Regions from separate parts of the Homo sapiens genome. Here region 1 is linked to region 2. Evidence: fine-mapped expression QTL. A gene starts in region 2. The other region holds a variant in brackets. All regions are shown on one strand. Distances are from middle to middle.

Evidence for each region. PIP is the estimated chance that this variant, and not a neighbour inherited with it, causes the effect.
Region 1: its variant is fine-mapped to the expression of PHF19 in whole blood (TOPMed, PIP above 0.99).

Annotation. Positions count from the first base shown.
Region 1 is chr9:120,944,049-120,952,377 of GRCh38, reverse strand. It overlaps C5-OT1 (C5 3' UTR overlapping transcript 1), which reads left to right. Exons shown (of 2, transcript NR_148450.1): 1 at 1-186. It overlaps C5 (complement C5), which reads left to right. Exons shown (of 41, transcript NM_001735.3): 41 at 1-43. Among named protein-coding and RNA genes, the nearest start is that of C5-OT1, 4.6 kb to the left of the region's middle. RefSeq lists an enhancer at 7,483-7,532. The variant A/C (reference allele first, on the strand shown) is at 4,515.
Region 2 is chr9:120,873,939-120,882,267 of GRCh38, reverse strand. PHF19 (PHD finger protein 19) reads left to right here and starts at 5,080. Exons shown (of 15, transcript NM_015651.3): 1 at 5,080-5,177; 2 at 7,512-7,712; 3 at 8,208-8,289. The coding sequence starts at 7,527. RefSeq lists enhancers at 4,281-4,330, 4,591-4,640, 5,652-6,243, 8,054-8,329 and silencers at 4,761-5,040, 5,281-5,330, 5,611-6,060.

The DNA of each region.
Region 1 (8,329 bases), 70 kb before region 2:
AGGAACAGGAAACTGATCATTAAAGCCTGAGTTTGCTTTCAAACTGTGCTAAAAAGCCTGTTATTTTATGCTAGATCAGCTTCAACCACACAAAGACAGGCAAATTGAGAGAGATGGAGAAAGTCAGCAGTAGAGAACCTTAACCTTGAGCGGGCTTAGCCTCAGAGCCCTCAGCGCACTGAGAAGGTAGGTGGGTTTGTCCCTGCCCCCTCCCCGTCCATTGCCCTCTCCATACCCCTGAAGGGAGACCCTCTACTCTCTTTCCCTCCCTTCCGGCACATGTTCATTTCCCCCAGGAACCTGCTCTCGCCAACAATTGCTTTACTAAAAGACAGGCCCCAGTGCAGCAACCTGGTGAAAAGAAACTGAGTGGCGGATCGGGAGACCTTTCTCCAGCCCTAACCAGGTCTCTCTCTGAGCCTCAATTTGAGCTTTATAAAAGAGGATACATAACAGAAGTTAATTTTTAAGTGACATTTTGCAGCACTTCAGATCATATTAAAAAGCTCTCGCATATATTCTCATTTAATGTCTCAAGCCTCTCACAAGATTCAGAAATTATTATCATTATCATCCCCATCTTACAGATAAGAAAATTGAGATTTAGGCCTGGCATGGTGGCTCAAGCCTGTAATCCCAGCACTTTGGGAGGCCAAGGCGGGCAGATCACTTGAGGTCAGGAGTTCGAGACCAGCCTGGCCAACATAGTGAAACCCCATCTCTACTAAAAATATAAAAATTAGCCAGGCTAATTTAGCAAGCCTGTAATCCCAGGTACTCAGTAGGCTGAGGCAGGAGGATCACTTGAACCCAGGAAGTGGACGTTGCAGTGAGCCGAGATCATGCCACTGCATTCCAGCCTAGGTGACAGAGTGAGACTCCATCTCAAAAAAGAAAAAAGAAAAAGAAAAGAAAATTGAGGTTCAGAAAAGTAAAGCAGTTTTCCCAACCTAGTAAGGAAAAGAATTGGAAATCAAACCCCAAGACTCTATCTCAGTTTAAATACATCTCTGTTCCACATCACTACATATTGCTTGTTGGGTTGAATTTTCTAACAGTAAGGCAGGATATAGTAGAAGTTTCTTAGACACAGATTAACCAGCCCCACTGAACTATCACAGGAAACATGAAGATGACCTCCGGATGTAACGGTAATTAACAGAGACTGGAATGCATCTCCTTTTGAAGAGTCTGCTTTTTACTAGTTAGGTGAAGCTACACAAGGCCTTGTAGTGTGCCTTTGTAAATAACACTAAGATTTTCCACTTCCAGGGACTAAGGACTTATTTTTCTCTAATGTCAAAGCTCACATTGTAGGCACTCCCTTGGCAAAAACAACCAATGTGTCATGTTCAAGATGCCCACACTCCCTGTCAGCGAGGGGTGAGGAGACCTTCTCCAGAGCAGGCCTCTCGGTGTCTCCTGTCACTTCCTTGCTGGGAGGAGGGAACCACTGGTGCTGCTTCGAAGGCACAGGAGTCTGACTGCCTTTTCCTGAGCACTTTGGCAAATAGGGCAGGCCACAGTGGCCTAATTAACCCACAATGCAGCTGTCAAATATCAAAGAAGGTTTTGTGAATTAGCCTGGCACCATTTAAAATATCTGCCAGCTCCTCTTCAGCTAACTCCTATGCATTTGAACATATTTTCTCAGTGAGGCTTTTGTGACCCTCCAAACCAGGCTGGGCCCATTACCCAACCCTGCACTTCTCCTCCAAGGCACTTGTGCTCTTGCAATGATTTACTTAATCAGATTGAATTATTAGTTTAGCGTGACCACACTGAAAGCTCCACTTAGGTAAGGTCTGAGTCTGTTCTATTCGCCAGTATCTCCTGTAGTTGGCACAATGTCGGGCACATCATAGGGACTCAATAAGTGTTTGTGGATTCCCCTACAGTGTAGAGAATCAGAAGACCCAAGTTCTAGTCTTGGCTTTGGCCCTAATTGGCAGTGATTTGGGACAAGCCTCTTAATCTCTTTGATAGCCTATAAAATAAGGGAATTGGACACTCTAATGTCTCTTTTATCTATAGCTAAGAAGATGTTCTATAATCTTATGATGTGAAACAGGAAAAACCAAACGGCATATAAGCATCCAAATATTGGGCTTATGTATTTCATTCTTTCTTTCTCTCTTTTTTTTTTTTTTTTTTTTTTGAGACACAGTTTTGCTCTTGTTGCCCAGGCTGGAGTGCAATGGCGCAATCTCGGCTCACTGCAACCTCCGCCTCCCGGGTTCAAGCAATTCTCCTGCCTCAGCCTTCCAAGTAGCTAGGATTACAGACATGTGCCACCACACCCAGCTAATTTTTTGTATTTAGTACAGATAGGTTTTCGCCATGTTGGTCAGGCTGGTCTCGAACGCCTGACCTCAGGTGATCTACCTCCCTTGGCCTCCCAAAGTGCCGGGATTACAGGCGTGAGCCACTATGGCCGGCCTGGGCTTACATATTTTGTCTGTAAGTATGGAGACAGTGCAGAGAAGTAAGCTGGAAGAGCTGCCAAGGCTTTCTGTAGAAGGACACTGGGATTTGGGTAGGTGGGAGGTACAGGGAAGGCCTTTCTGGTTAAGGGGCAACGCTTAAGGCAGGTTTCCCCAGGGGTAAGCAAGATGTTCTTAGGTGATACGATGCACATTGTTCACTTTAGTGGCTATATGTTTATTTTAACATGTATTTTAAAAAAGTAATTAGCACATCAAAGCCATGATGTAACATTTTCTTCCAAAATAAATCTATTTTCCAAGAAGTAAGTCTATTTAAGAAAAAGTATTGAGTAAATAAAAGTAAGTTTATTCTTAGGGCAAAAATCATGCAGTTGGCATGCAAATGATTGACGTTTAAGATACTCTGTCTTAAGAAAACACGTGGAGGTCTGTGAGCCAAGGTTGAGGCAAGCAGCCTTGCTCCATATTTCTCAGTGAGAAATTCTGGACCAAAGTCATGTTTAGTCTTTCTTTCCAGACCCTATGATGCTGATGTATTCAGCAACACCCAACAAACATGTATTGATTGGTGACTGCAGGCTAGGCCCAATTCTAGGTGCTTGGTACCAAGATCCCTGCCATTGTGGAACATAGATTCCAACTGGGAGAGATATGTAATAAAAAATAAAGAGAATAATTAAGCAATTAGTCTTGGATCTCAGAAAGTGATAAGAGCAATGGGAAAAAGAAAAAGCAGACTAAAGGAGACTGGTAATGGTCAGGGGAGGGGTTGCAGTTCTAAATAGGGTGGCCAGGTCAGGGTGGGCTTCAATGAGAAGGTGAAATTTGAGCAAAGACTTGAAGGATGTGAAAGAGTGAGCCACATAGCTAGCCAAGGGGAGAGTGTTCCTGGCACTCTTGGTACATAGTGTCCGGCCTAAGGCAGGAGCATGCTGGTGTGTCACAGGAAAAGCAAGGAAGCAGGGGTGGCAGGTGCAGATTATGAAGCCAATGGAAGAGGCTTTGGCTTTACTTGGAAGGAAACAGGAGCCATTGCAAGGCTTTGAAAAGAAGAGTGACATGGTCTGTCTTGCCTTTTTAAAGGACTACTGTAACTGCTGTTGAAAATAAGGCAAGGGTAAAGAGAACGGATAGGAGGCTACTGTAATAAACTAGGTGAGGGATGATGGTGCCTCAGACCAGAGTGGTAGCAGTGGAGGTATTGAAAAGTGGTTGAATTCTGGATATACTTTAAAAGTAAATGATACAGTTTGGATATTTGTCCCCCAAAATCACATGTTGAAATGTGATCCCCAGTGTTGGAAGTGAGGCGAGGTGGAAGATGTTTGGGCCATGGGAGTGGATCCCTCGTGAATGGCTTGGTGCCCTCCCCATGGTAATGAGAGTTCTTACTCTGTGAGTTACCACGAGATCTGATTGTTTATAAAGAGCCTGGCACCTCCTTCTAGCTGGTTGCTTCCTCTCTCACCATGTGCCACTTAGGCTCTTTTTTCCCTTCTACCATGACTGTAAGCTTCCTGAGGCCTCACCAGAAGCAGATGCTGGCACCATGCTTCCCGTATAGCCTGCAGAACCGTGCGCCAAACAAATCTCTTTTCTTTATAAATTATGCAGCCTCAGGTATTCCTTTATAGCAATACAAAAGGGACTAATACAGTAGGCTTAATTGAAGGGACTAATATTGTAGGTTTAACTGAATTCCCTGATAGAGTGGAAATAAGTGTGAGAGAAAGAAAGGAGTCAAGGATGATGCCAAGACTTTTGGCCTGAACAACTGGAAAGATGGAGTTGCCTGAGATTAGGAAGGCTGCAGATGGAGCAGGTTGTGGGGAGTTAGGAATCTGTTCAGTTTTGGATGTGTTGAATTTTAGAAGAAATCTATTAAACATCCAAGTGAAGGAGCCTGGAAGGCAATTGGTCATATAGTTATCTAGTTCAGGAGAGAGCTCTGGGCTGAAAAACATAAATCTGAGAATCATCAGCATACTAAAACCATTAGACTAGTTAAGATCACTAAGGATGTGAATACAGACAGAGGAGTGGAAAAAAAGAAGACCAAGGATAGAC[A/C]TTTTGAGCATTCCAAGATGAAGTTATTAGAGAAAAGAGATAGAGGATCCATTGAATTAGGAGAAAAAACAAGAGATGAGGTCCCCTCAAGCCAAACAAAAGAAAGAGGTTCTGGGAGGAAGAGTGTTGAACTGTATCAAATGCTTCAGAGAGAAGTAAGATGAAGACTTGGCTGTTGGGTTTAGCATTGGTGACTTTGACAGGGCAGGTTGGGTGGAGTAGTGGGAAGAATAGCCTGAATAGAGTGATTTAAGAGTAGATAGGAGGAGAGGATTTGGAGACAGGGAGTATGGACAACTCATTCAAGGAGCAAAGAAATGGATTGAGGGGAGTAGAGTGAAGGAAAGTTTAAGACGGAAGAAATAACACATTTGTGTTCTAAAGGGAATGACTCAGTAAAGAGTAAATAATTGACGATGCAGGAGAGAGAAAGGAGAACTACTAGAGTAATGTCCTTGAAGAGGTAAGAGTGGATAGGATCTGGAGCACAAGTGGAGGACTTGGCTTTAAATAAGAACATGACTAGCTCACCTATGCCAGGGGTCAGCAAACTTCTGTAAAGAGCCATGCATTAAAATAACTGTAATATTTTAGGCTTTGTGGGCCATAATTCTCATAAGTCTCTATTGCAACTGCTCAACTCTCTCATTGTAGCACAAATGCAGCCATAGATAATGCAGAAAAGAATGGGCATGGACTAGGCAGGCTGGATTTAGCCCTTGGGCAGCAGCATACCGATCCCTGATCCATGACCCATGGTTGTAGGCAGAGAAGCTGAGCACATGCAGCAGACGCTGGCAAGGGGTAGATGTGGTGAGAGTCTGTGGAAGTCCCTTTCTCAGAGAAGTAGGATGAAGATCATCACCTGAGATGGAGGATAGGGAGGAGCAATTGGAGGTGTGACGGGAGGAAAGAAGGGTGAGACAGTTATCTAAAAGAGAGGGAGGCTGAACCAACTAAGGACTTGTAATATATTTGCTTCTTCGTATTAAGGGTCCACTTGAAGTTTCTAGTCATGAATTTAAAGTGGGACTGATCAGCATGGGTTGTGGGATTTTCTCCAGCCACATACACATCCTTTTCAGAATCTAATGAAAGCTATAGACTTATCAATTCCCTCCAATCAAGACAACCAGGAATACCTGGAACTGAACAAGTTTCAGTTTATTGAGTCTTTGCAACAAGGGAGAACACACACCATGGGGACCATAAGGCTTCTCGGTGAGAGTGCATTAGAAAAGCCTTATTATAGGATTTGTACTTGTGATAGAGTATTTGGGAGGAGCCTCAAAGAAATGGAACTTTACTCTGGATTGGATGCTTTCAGGAAGCAGGGGCAATCCTATGACCCAGTATCTTATTTCTTTTCTAGCTGGGAGGAAAAGTAGCAGCACTTACTCACTTTAGCCAGGAAAAGGGTGTGTGTGGTCATTTTTGTGGTTTGGACAATGTTCTTGTTTTTATATCCTGCTCAAACATGATTATAGAGTAGTCGTTTTTAGTATGGATCCATTTTGTCTGATGTTGATGTTCTATGACATCAGACACAGAGAACACCCCAGCCTGGCTCTGGGCACCAGACTGGCTCCCAGGGACACCGAGGCCTCACGCCAGTTGTCCAGGGCCACTCTTCTCTTTCACAGACCCCTGTCCCAGAAACATGCACATACACACACCATGCTCACAGCCTCATACCTGACAGAGGCCCCCCGCCACCAAAATTCCACTCCTTCTCTGTTTCCATCATTATAGTCAGATATGTGTATGTTACATGCACAGTCATGAATTATACAAATCTAAAATGCCCACACCAGAAAGGACCTAGAGCTCATCTCATCCGATTCCTTCATTTTTTGCCTGTGAACATGGAGGTCCAGAGGAGCAGCTTGTCTAGGATTATGGTGCTGATAAATGGAAAGGCCAGGACAGAAGCCCAAGTGAGGCCTCTGAACACCGCATTCTTCCCACCACTGAGATGAGCAGGAGTTACAGAGACACCAGTTTTGGCTCCCTGTGAAGAAGCATTTTCTTATAGCCATAGCCATTCAAAAGTAGAGTCAGGTCCAAGTTCCTTATTGCTGGGGCCATCTGAGCAGAGTCTAGCTGCCACCTTCCAGGGATGTTTCTGGGCAATTCAAGGTAGGGGGCTTAATGTCCCTTCAGTGCTGAGAGACTTTTAATAGTCAAGAAAACATCTACTTGACTGCTTTAATAAAAAGGTGAAGTTTTCACATCTGAAAAACAGAAGTACTAATAATACCCAAGTCAGAGGATTTCTGCAAGGCTCAAATGAGATAATACAGATAATGCACATAAAATGATTAGCACAGTGCCTGGCACAATAAAAGTAACTTGTGGCTGGGTAATAATACCTCTCTGGCACACTAGAGGTGGTAAATTCAATAATTTTTTACCTGTGAACATCCTACTTAGATTCATAAAATATTGACATTTAAAGATCCTCTAGAGATCATCTCATCAATGCCTCCCCATTTCACAGACCAGGAAGCAGGCCCAGGGAGGAGCCAGGACTCACCAAGAGGGTTCCACAACAGAGCTGGGGCTAGAACCCGCAGCACCAGGCTCCTCTGCCTTCCTATATGCAGCCTGGTGTCTCCTCAGGGCCTAATAGAAACATTGCCTGCAGGGGCAAGCAGAGACCCGAGCCTGGTGGTGAGGGCCAGGGCTAACATGTCTAACAGATGAGTTGGGAGCAATCAGAGGGTTTTGGTGTTGTTGTTGTTAGGCTGGAGGGGTGTGTGTGTGTGTGTGTGTGTGTGTGTTGGTGTTGGAAGGGTGGTCGGTGGGAGGGGGGTTGAAACTGAATGAGACAAGAGAAATTGGAGTTAAGGAAAGGATTGTTTGGCTTAATAATATATTTTCCAAATAAAGAACCTTTAGGAAATTAGAGCCAGGACTAGACTGTAATTCTCTGAGGGCAAAGGAAGAGGAAGGGAAAGGAGATATGCTTAGAGTTGGAGGAGAAGGCAGAAAGGTTTCCTGAGTCTGTTAGGGCCTTGGGGCAAGGCTGGTCGTCATTCATCCTCTTCTTGCCTCCTCCTTTCACCTCTAAAGGCGAAAGGCCAAACTGTGGTCTGTTCATTAAATAAATGCTGGGTGTCGAAATTAAAATGGCTCACTGATTTGGCTATGTTGTGTGTGTGTGACTGACAGACAGAGAGAGAAAGGAGGAGTTAGTATGGGGAAGTGATACAGTGAAGAAGTAAGACATTGAACCATGAAACAGAGGAGCTGCCCTGACTTGTGGCCTTGGGAGAGTTCCTGAACCTCATCAAGTCTCAATTTGCCCATCTAGAAAGCGGAAGTAACATTATCAGCCCTAATGGGTTATAATGATTAGGAAAAACACCTTAGTGCCAACTCAGGAGCCCACAATCTGTGGCAGTCAGCTGGAGTGTGATTTCCAGCTGTCTTAACTCTCTAGGCCTCAGTTCTATCTTTTAAAAATAATGAAAGAATTTCCCCCAACCCAATTTACAGATTTGTTGCAAGGATGAAATAAGATCCAACAAGTGAGAGAAATTTTAAAATGTAGAATCTTGCACAAATATAAACATAGCATTAAAAACAAAAAGCATCTTTGTGCTAAGATACCATAGACAGAGACTGCCTGGTGTGCTTTTTTAAAAATTGGGAAAAGACCACTATCTTAAAAAACAACCTCCTCCAGTGCCTCGAATTTTCCCATTTGCCTTCCTCTTTTGGTCCTCAGGACTGTCAGCCTTAGAACAATGCTATACAAAGTGTGGTCCCTGGCCGCCTGGGAGTTTGTCAGGAATGCAAATTCCCAGACC
Region 2 (8,329 bases):
GGGCTCTCTGGCCCTTTGGTGGTCTCCCTGGACAGAGAGGTACTGAGACACTGCTGAGCAGAGGGGACAAGCCCTGACTCTCTATTGTGTGTGACACTGAGTTTATCACTACGCCTTTCCAAACCTCCATTTCATCCCCTGCAAAATGGACCTGATGCCTGCCACACCTGGCTCACCACGCTGTGACAAGCCTTAAAAGAGAAGGGTGGGCCAGGTGCAGTGGCACGCACCTGTAATCCCAACACTTTGGAAGGCCAAGGCTGGTGGATCATGAAGTCAGGAGTTCAAGACCAGCCTGACCAACATGGTGAAACCCAATCTCTACTAAAAATACAAAAATTAGCCAGGCGTGATAGCGTGCACCTGGAACCCCGGCTACCCAGGAGGCTGAGGCAGGAGAATTGCTTGAACCTGGGAGGCAGAGTTTGCAGTGAGCCGAGATCGTGCCACTGCACTCTGGCCTAGGCAACAGAGCAAGACTTCATCTCAAATAAACAAACAAACAAATAAGAAGGGTGATCAGTCCCATGCATGAGGGGACACTGTGCACTGTAACCACCCTGGACACCTAACAAGCAATGCTATCATCAAAACCTCCTCTGCTGCAATCTCCTCATAGCTTCCTGCCCCTCCCACCTTTAAAATCACCAAATATCTCAAACATGGAAAAGTTTTAGACTTGAGAAGGAGAAGGATCAGAGAGAACAACTATGGATCAACCACCCAGCTCTGTTACATCTTGACACTTGGTCATACTTGCCTCAGATTTTAATTTTTTTTTCTAAGAAATAAAACATACAGATAGAATTAAACCCCCTGTGGGCCAGGCACGGTGACTCACGCCTGTAATCCCAGCACTTTGGGAGGCAGAAGTGGGCGGATCACGAGGTCAGGAGATCAAGACCATCTTGGCTAACACGGTGAAAGCCCGTCTCTACTAAAAATATAAAAAATCAGCGGGGCGTGGTGGTGGGTGCCTGTAGTCCCAGCTACTCGGGAGGCTGAGGCAGGAGAAGGGCGTGAACCCGGGAGGCGGAGGTTGCAGTGAGCCGAGATCGCGCCACTGCACTCCAGCCTGGGCAACAGAGCGAGACTCTCTCAAAAAAAAAAAAAAAAAACAAACCCCCGATGTGCTTCCTTCTGATCTCATTCCTGTCCCTCCCTTCCCAAAGGTTACCCTATTCTAAATCTAGGGTCTTTGATTTCCCATGCATGTTTCAATACTTTTACTAGCTGACTGTAGCCCCAAAATGTCTACATAGCTTATTTTGTATTTCTTTGGGTTTTTTGTTGTTTGTTTGTTTGTTTTTGAGAAAGTCTCTCTCTGTCACCCAGGCTGGAGTGCAGTGGCACAATCATGGCTTACTGTGGCCTCAAACTCCTGGGCTCAATCAATCTTCCCACCTCAGTCTCCCAAGTAGCTGGGACTACAGGTGCATGCCATCATGCCCAGCTAATTTTTGTATTTTTAGTAGAGATAGGGTTTCGCCATGTTGCCCAGGCTGGTCTTGAACTCCTGGGCTCAAGCGATCTTCCCACCATAGCCTCCCAAAGCGCTGGAATACAGACTTGAGCCACGGGCCCAGCTGAATGCGTTAAGAAACATTTTTTATCATTTGTGTCACACTGTACCTATGCTACAACTTGATGTTAGTTTTTTTCCTAGGGTGTAACTATGTTGAGGCTGCAGACTTAGTTTATTTTTACTCCCAGTATATTATTCCATTGTATGACTACATCACAATTAATCTATCTGGTCTGCTGTTTGTTTGTTGAGACGGAGTCTCGCTCAGTCACTCAGGCTGGAGTGCAGTGGCACGATTTCGCTCAATGCAACCTCCACCTCCCAGGTTCAAACAATTCTCCTGTCTCAGCCTCCCAAGTAGCTGGGACTACAGGCACACGCCACCATGCCCGGCTAATTTTTGTATTTTTAGTAGAGACGGGATTTCACCATATTGATCAGGCTGGTCTCAAACTCCTGACCTCAAGTGATCCACCTGCCTTGGCCTCCCAAAGTGCTGGGATTACAGGCATGAGCCACAGTGCCTGGCCTATCTGGACTGCTGTTCATGGATAATTCATTAATTTCTAAATTTTCACAATTATGCGCTGAATGACGAGTGGAGTCATTGAATTGTAGCTATGAGTATCTTCCACTTTCTTACAAGTTGCCAAACTGTTCTCCAAAATCGTTTTACCAGTTCATATCTCCATAGGTATTTGAGGGTCCCAACTGTGCGACATCCTCACCCCCCACCCCCCTATATTGACAGACTCGACTCCGTGCCCATCTGGTGGATGTGTAATGGTGTATCACAGTTCTCTTCATTTGCGTCTCTCACGTGGCCAATAAGGTTGAGCACCTTTTCACATTTTAGGCTATTTTAGCCATTTAGGTTTCCTCTTTTGTGAGTTGCCTGTTGATATCCTTAATCCATATTTAAAAAATTGGATTGTTGGTCAGCCCATTAAACTCCCTCCACCTGGCACACCCACCTCCCTATTTCCACAACCTAACTGATTGCTACTTTTTCCGGGAAACTTGTTCTCTTTCCTCAATTCGAATTTAGAGTTGCCTCTAAATAATCACTGGTGACACCGTACCTTTCTTGTGGCATTTATAATTTCCTGTTCTGTAGTGTTTTAACTTCTTATTTTGCATATCAAACTTTTTAGTTTACAAAAGCACCTGCTCCTTCATTGTCTTATTTGAACATTTATGCAACAGCCCCACGAGATGGGTAGTATTATTACCCTCTTTTCAACCGATAAAGAAACATGGTGTAGGAGGGTCTAGCTAACCCAAGACCCCGCCCTGGCTCAGAGGCAGAGCTGGACTTGAAGCCAGGACAATTCAATTCCACGTGCAGCTCACAGCACAATCCCCTCTTATTTATCTATGCATCAACACCGCCTCCTCCACGAGGTTGCCAGTTCCTTGTCTCTCATCCACCTGTGTGTCTCCCATCCACCTGTGTGTCTCACATCCCCCCGCTCTAGTCCCACACAGTGGGGCAATCAAGATTCTGAATACAGAATTTCTTAACAAAGTATTAATACAATGATCACTTACTGCACACCTACTGGGCACCAGGGGCTTTGCATACATTAACTCTAACCTTCCCAATAACTCTATTTAGGTGAGGACACGGAGGCTTAAGACTTAAAGTCTCTGGAGCAAGAATTGTTTAAAAAAAAAAGAAAGAAAGAAGTGACACACTCAGGCTCCCATGGCCAGTAATGGGTGGAGCTGGCCTGTAGCCTCAGAGGTGAGCACTTCGCTCTATCATCTCTGTCCCCCAGCATCCTGAAGGCAGACCCAGCCAGCTTAGAAGCTAGTGGGAGTGTTCTGCTCCCATCATCAGCCCTACCCGCGTTGGACACACCTTCTCTTGGCAGAACATGGTTAAGTAGCACAATCCTAGGGCCCCTTTGGGACTTGAAAATGTGCTCTCCAGGATTGGGAGATTTTGTGCCATGGGGCTGCTCCCAGGCTTTCCTTCCAGGTTCAGGCAGGTACTCAGCAGTGCTAGGTTCTGCTGAGGCGCCAGGATCCAGAATGGGGCAGTGAGGCAGGTGAGAGCAGGGGGATCAAGGGGCAGAAGGAAGTGAGGAAGGAGGTGAAAGGACTCCTGGATCTCTGCTGAGAAGGTGAGGTGGGGGGCTGCACAGATCATGCTCCAAGGCCAGGAGGCAGAGGGCCCAGAGTGAGCAACTGACAGTGAACAGGGAAGGCTCTGGGGGAAGGTGCTGTCCACTGGCCACACCCATGAAAGCACATATCCCTGTCTGGTGGGGGTGTCTGCAGAGTGGGATGGTAGCCACAGAGGTGGGCGCTGTGGACTGAGGGCAAGGATGGGGGTGGGGTTATTGGTAAGTGTTCTTCCTCCCTTCCCCCAAGAGTGAGTCTGGGTGGGGCCATGTCTGCCTTTCCCCCACAGGGCAGGGTCCCTATGATTGGAGCTCTGCCCACTGACTCCATCTGCCATTCCTATGACTCTGTGCATGTTGTCTTTCATTGTGTGCCCTTTATTTACATGACATGTTGTGCGTGTGGTATATATTTGCGATTGTACCATGTATTTCTGTGCACTGTGTCTCTACGCAATTTGTTGTTTGGGGCTATTTCGGCCATGTAGGTTTCCTCTTTTGTGAATTGCCTTTTGATATCCTTAACCCGTATTTTAAAAATTGCATTGTTAGCCCACTGAATTCCCTCCACCTGGCACACCCACTAACCTATTTCCACAACCTATCTGAATGCCACTTTTTCAGGAAAACTTGTGTCTCTTGCCCGTCTGTGTTGTGACTTTATGTGTTATGTCCGTCTACCTTACATGCATGTTCTGTTGTGTGTCTCTGTTGTGTACAGTGTGTTCCCCCTTGTGTATCTATGCCTATGGCTGGTGTGTACAGTACTTCTCTTTGTGGTGTGTTTGTGTCCTGTACATGCTGTGGTGTGTTCTGACCTGTGTCGGAACAACATGCGTTGTGCACTGTGTGTTGTGTATCTACATTATACTTGTGCTGTGTCTCTGTGCCGAACGCCTGTGCTGTTAGTGCAAGGTGTTGTGTGGCCTGTTTGGGCGTCCTGGGTCTGTGTCTGCGCCAAGGGTCCGCGCCGCCCTGCTGTGTGTCTGTGCCAGGGTCCGCCGGTGCCTGCGCGCAGAGCTGTGTTTCCTCAACAAGTGTGCGAGCGGTCGTGTGCGCCATGAGCGCTGCCTGGCGTCTCCGTGTGCGCCGCGGTGTGGCCGCTCCTCGGCGGGGGGCCCGGGTCCTGGCTAGTGGCCGCGGAGGATGCGCGCCCGCGGGGCGGGCGGGGGCGGGCGGGGGCTGGCGGCGCTGCGGAGCCCGGCGGCCGCGGGCTCCAATGGCGAGGCCGGCGCGGCCCCCGCTAATTACATAAGCGGGACGTCAATAATTCGCGGGAAAACGCGAAAAAGATGGCGCCCCGCGCCCGGGGGGCCCCTTCCTGAGCGCCCCGGCCCCTCCCTCCGCCGCCTCCCCCTCCTCCCCGCGGCGCCCCCGCCCCGCCCCGCCCCCGCCGAGACCCCGACCCCGGCCCCACGGGCGGACACTCGGCCGGGCAGCCGCGGGCCGAGCGCAGCCGCCTCCGCCACCGATGCGCCTGGTGGCCAGACTCCAAGTGGGACCGGCGGACACGCAGCCTCGCGGTGAGTTCTGCGCTGTTGGGCGGACTCCCCGCCACGCTCTCCCCTCCCGGCCCTCATCCCTCTCTTTTCGAAATCTCCCTGAACTTTGGCGGCCCGAACGCCTCCGGGGGGTGAGACTCCTGCGGAGCGGGGCTCTCGGGGGTGGGGACCGGGGGTGCAGGTTACCTGCGGGGCAGAGGGGCCCCACCCGGGTTCCCGAGCCCCGGGGGGCATGGGTGACAGGTCGTTCTTCCTCGCCCCCGATCTTTAATTTTCCTATCGGGGTGGGGGAAGGACAGACGGGCGTTTGGCATTTCGCTCACGTCCGAAGTCAGGCTGCGGCAGGGTTGGGATGGGGGAGGCTTGGCGTCCGAGCGACTGAGGAGAGGAGCGCTGAACCCGAAGGGGGTGCTTCTGCAAGCTTTTTCCCCCCTCCTGAACATCCTTTTTAAAAAGCCAACGGCCGCCCTGGGAGAGGCCCCGGCGCATGAATCATCCTCGCTTCCTGCCCCCGCCCGGCCCCGCGCTCCCGGTGCCGCGGATTTGAACTGGACGCAGACGGGAACCCGCAAACAGGCATTTCTTTGCAAATGGGTTTGAATCAGCCAATCACAGCCCGCGGGGGCCCGCTCCGGGAGGACGGAGGCGGGGGCTGGGGGGGCGCCACCCGGGGGCCCCCGCCCGGCCAGGGTGGAGGCGGGTGCGGCGACCCGGCCGGCTCCTAGAGGCGCAGCGGGAGAGGAAGTGTCAGTTTGTGAACCTGCAGCGGCCCCGGCCTGGCCCCTGGCCGGGCGGGCGGGGACCTCGCAGCGCCGGGCGAGCCAGGTGGCAGGGAGAGGACAGGGATTCAGACCGCATCCCCTGCCCGGGAGCCTGTGCGCTCTGCGCTGGAGAAAAAGGAGATGGGAGTGGGGGTGGAGAAGGTCGTGGCCACGCCACCATCTGGGGAGCCGAGACCCCTGCAGTGCCTGGCTCGCCCCAGGGCCCCGCACATACTTAGCTTCACACACTCCCTGGCACAATGCCGTAGACATCATCCTGCCCAGTCTCACAGGAGTACACACACGCACCACACAGAAACAGGCACTGGACTCTCTCCCTGTGAACAGATAGTCACAACACCAGGTGCCCAGCGCCATGGCCACAAGGAGGAGACCCGAGTAGGCCCGCGGGGAAAGAGAGAGGCTGTGTGTGGCTGTAGTGGAGAGCATGTGGAGGGACTTGGAGCCAGGTGAGCCCAGCAGAAAGGAGGGGGCGTTAGGGACGGCTTTGAGCACCAGTGAGGGCAGTGGGGAGCCCCAGAAAGTTTCTGGAAGGAAATTGGTGGCCCTGCGGAAGAGTCTGGTGGAGAGGCAGGAATGCAGGAACGGCCTGTTTAGCACTGGGTGCTGGTAGTACCGTTCCCCACCCTAGGTGCCTAGTGGAGGTAAGCACAAGGCCCAGGAAACTGTTATTGGGTGAATGAATGAATGAATGAATGGCCCAAGCAAAAGATGAGGCCTGAACTGAGACCAGGGCAGGAGGATGGAAGCTAGAGCTGGAAAGCCAGAAATCATGGCACTTAAAATGGGCCGGCTGTGGCAACTAATTGCTTGGAGGAGTTTGAGATGCATGAAGGCAGTACCACAGGCAGGGAGAGAGAAATCGATGGGTGAACTGCACGTTGAATAGGATGGTGAGAGACAGGCGTGGAGAGGCTGGCATGGGGATGGATGACTTCACTGCTTGGAGCAAATGTGTATCTGGGTGAAAGCATAAGTGGGTTTAAATGTCCCAGAATTGGTTTCCATTAAATCATCTCATAATTGAGAACAGAAGGGGGGATTACAAAAGACAGATGACCCAGTCTACACTAGCTACAAGCCACCCAGTTTTCCTTTCTAGGTGAATTTTCTCTGGACAGATCTCAGGTTAGGGATGGTTGCAGGGGTTGGGGGTAAAAACAAAACCCAACTGCTTGCCTGGAGAAGATCCTCCATCCAGAGCACATGGACTGTGTTTGCTTAAGGAATAAAACCTCAGCCTCCTGAGACAGGGAGTGGTTCAGGCCCGCTGGGTAGGGGACTTTGTTCTGTGTGGGTTGAGAGATCCATTCTCTTTAAAAGGTAGTGTGGTATGGGCCATGGCTCTGCCTTTGGCCCATCAGCCTCTTCTCCTTGCCACACCTGTTTCCCTATCTGTAAGATGTGAATAATAATAATGTCTCCCTCATAGGATGGTCACGAGGAATCAGTGAGATAATAACCAAGTCTGGCTTATAGCACAGGGTACAGAAATGGTGGTTTCCTTCCTTCCCCTGATGGGCTTTCTGAAGCAGGGAAGCAAGAAGCAAAAACCCTGTTCTTTCTCTCCCAGTGTCAGGGGAAGCTGATGGAGAATCGAGCTCTGGATCCAGGGACTCGGGACTCCTATGGTGCCACCAGCCACCTCCCCAACAAGGGGGCCCTGGCGAAGGTCAAGAACAACTTCAAAGACTTGATGTCCAAACTGACGGAGGGCCAGTATGTGCTGTGCCGGTGGACAGATGGCCTGTACTACCTCGGGAAGATCAAGAGGGTAAACCCATCCTCTCTGGCCCCTGTTCTCAGACTCAGAATCTCTCTGCTCATGTTCCAGCCTGGCTGTCAGACCAGGGGGCAGGGGGATTGCTGGAGAATTCCCTTCTTGTCCCTCATGCCCAAAGCTGGTGGTGGGAGGGGCCAGAGCCTGGTCTTGCAGGCACCATCCCTAGGGTCAACATCATCCAACTAGTTCTTTAGAAAAGTGCTCTGAGAGCCTACAAAACAAAAAAGTCAGGTTTGAGAGGATCACAGAGGAGCATCTGACTTGTGCTTCTGTCCTCAACATTCTGACCAAGTTGCCATCCATCGGTCCCTGGCTGTACGACTCCAGGTGACTAGGAGTACACCCTGTCCAGGAACTGCCATCCTTCTTCCCCTTCTAGCCCTGCTTTCTGGAACATACGGAGACAAAAATGGGGGAGGAAGACTATGTTCCAGGTTGGCTTTTCCCCAGCCCTTTCTCACTTGCTCCTTCCTATCTGTACCCCAGGTCAGCAGCTCTAAGCAAAGCTGCCTCGTGACTTTCGAAGATAATTCCAAATACTGGGTCCTATGGAAGGACATACAGCATGGTGAGTTTTCCTAACATTTCGGGTAGCCCCCAACCTCCCC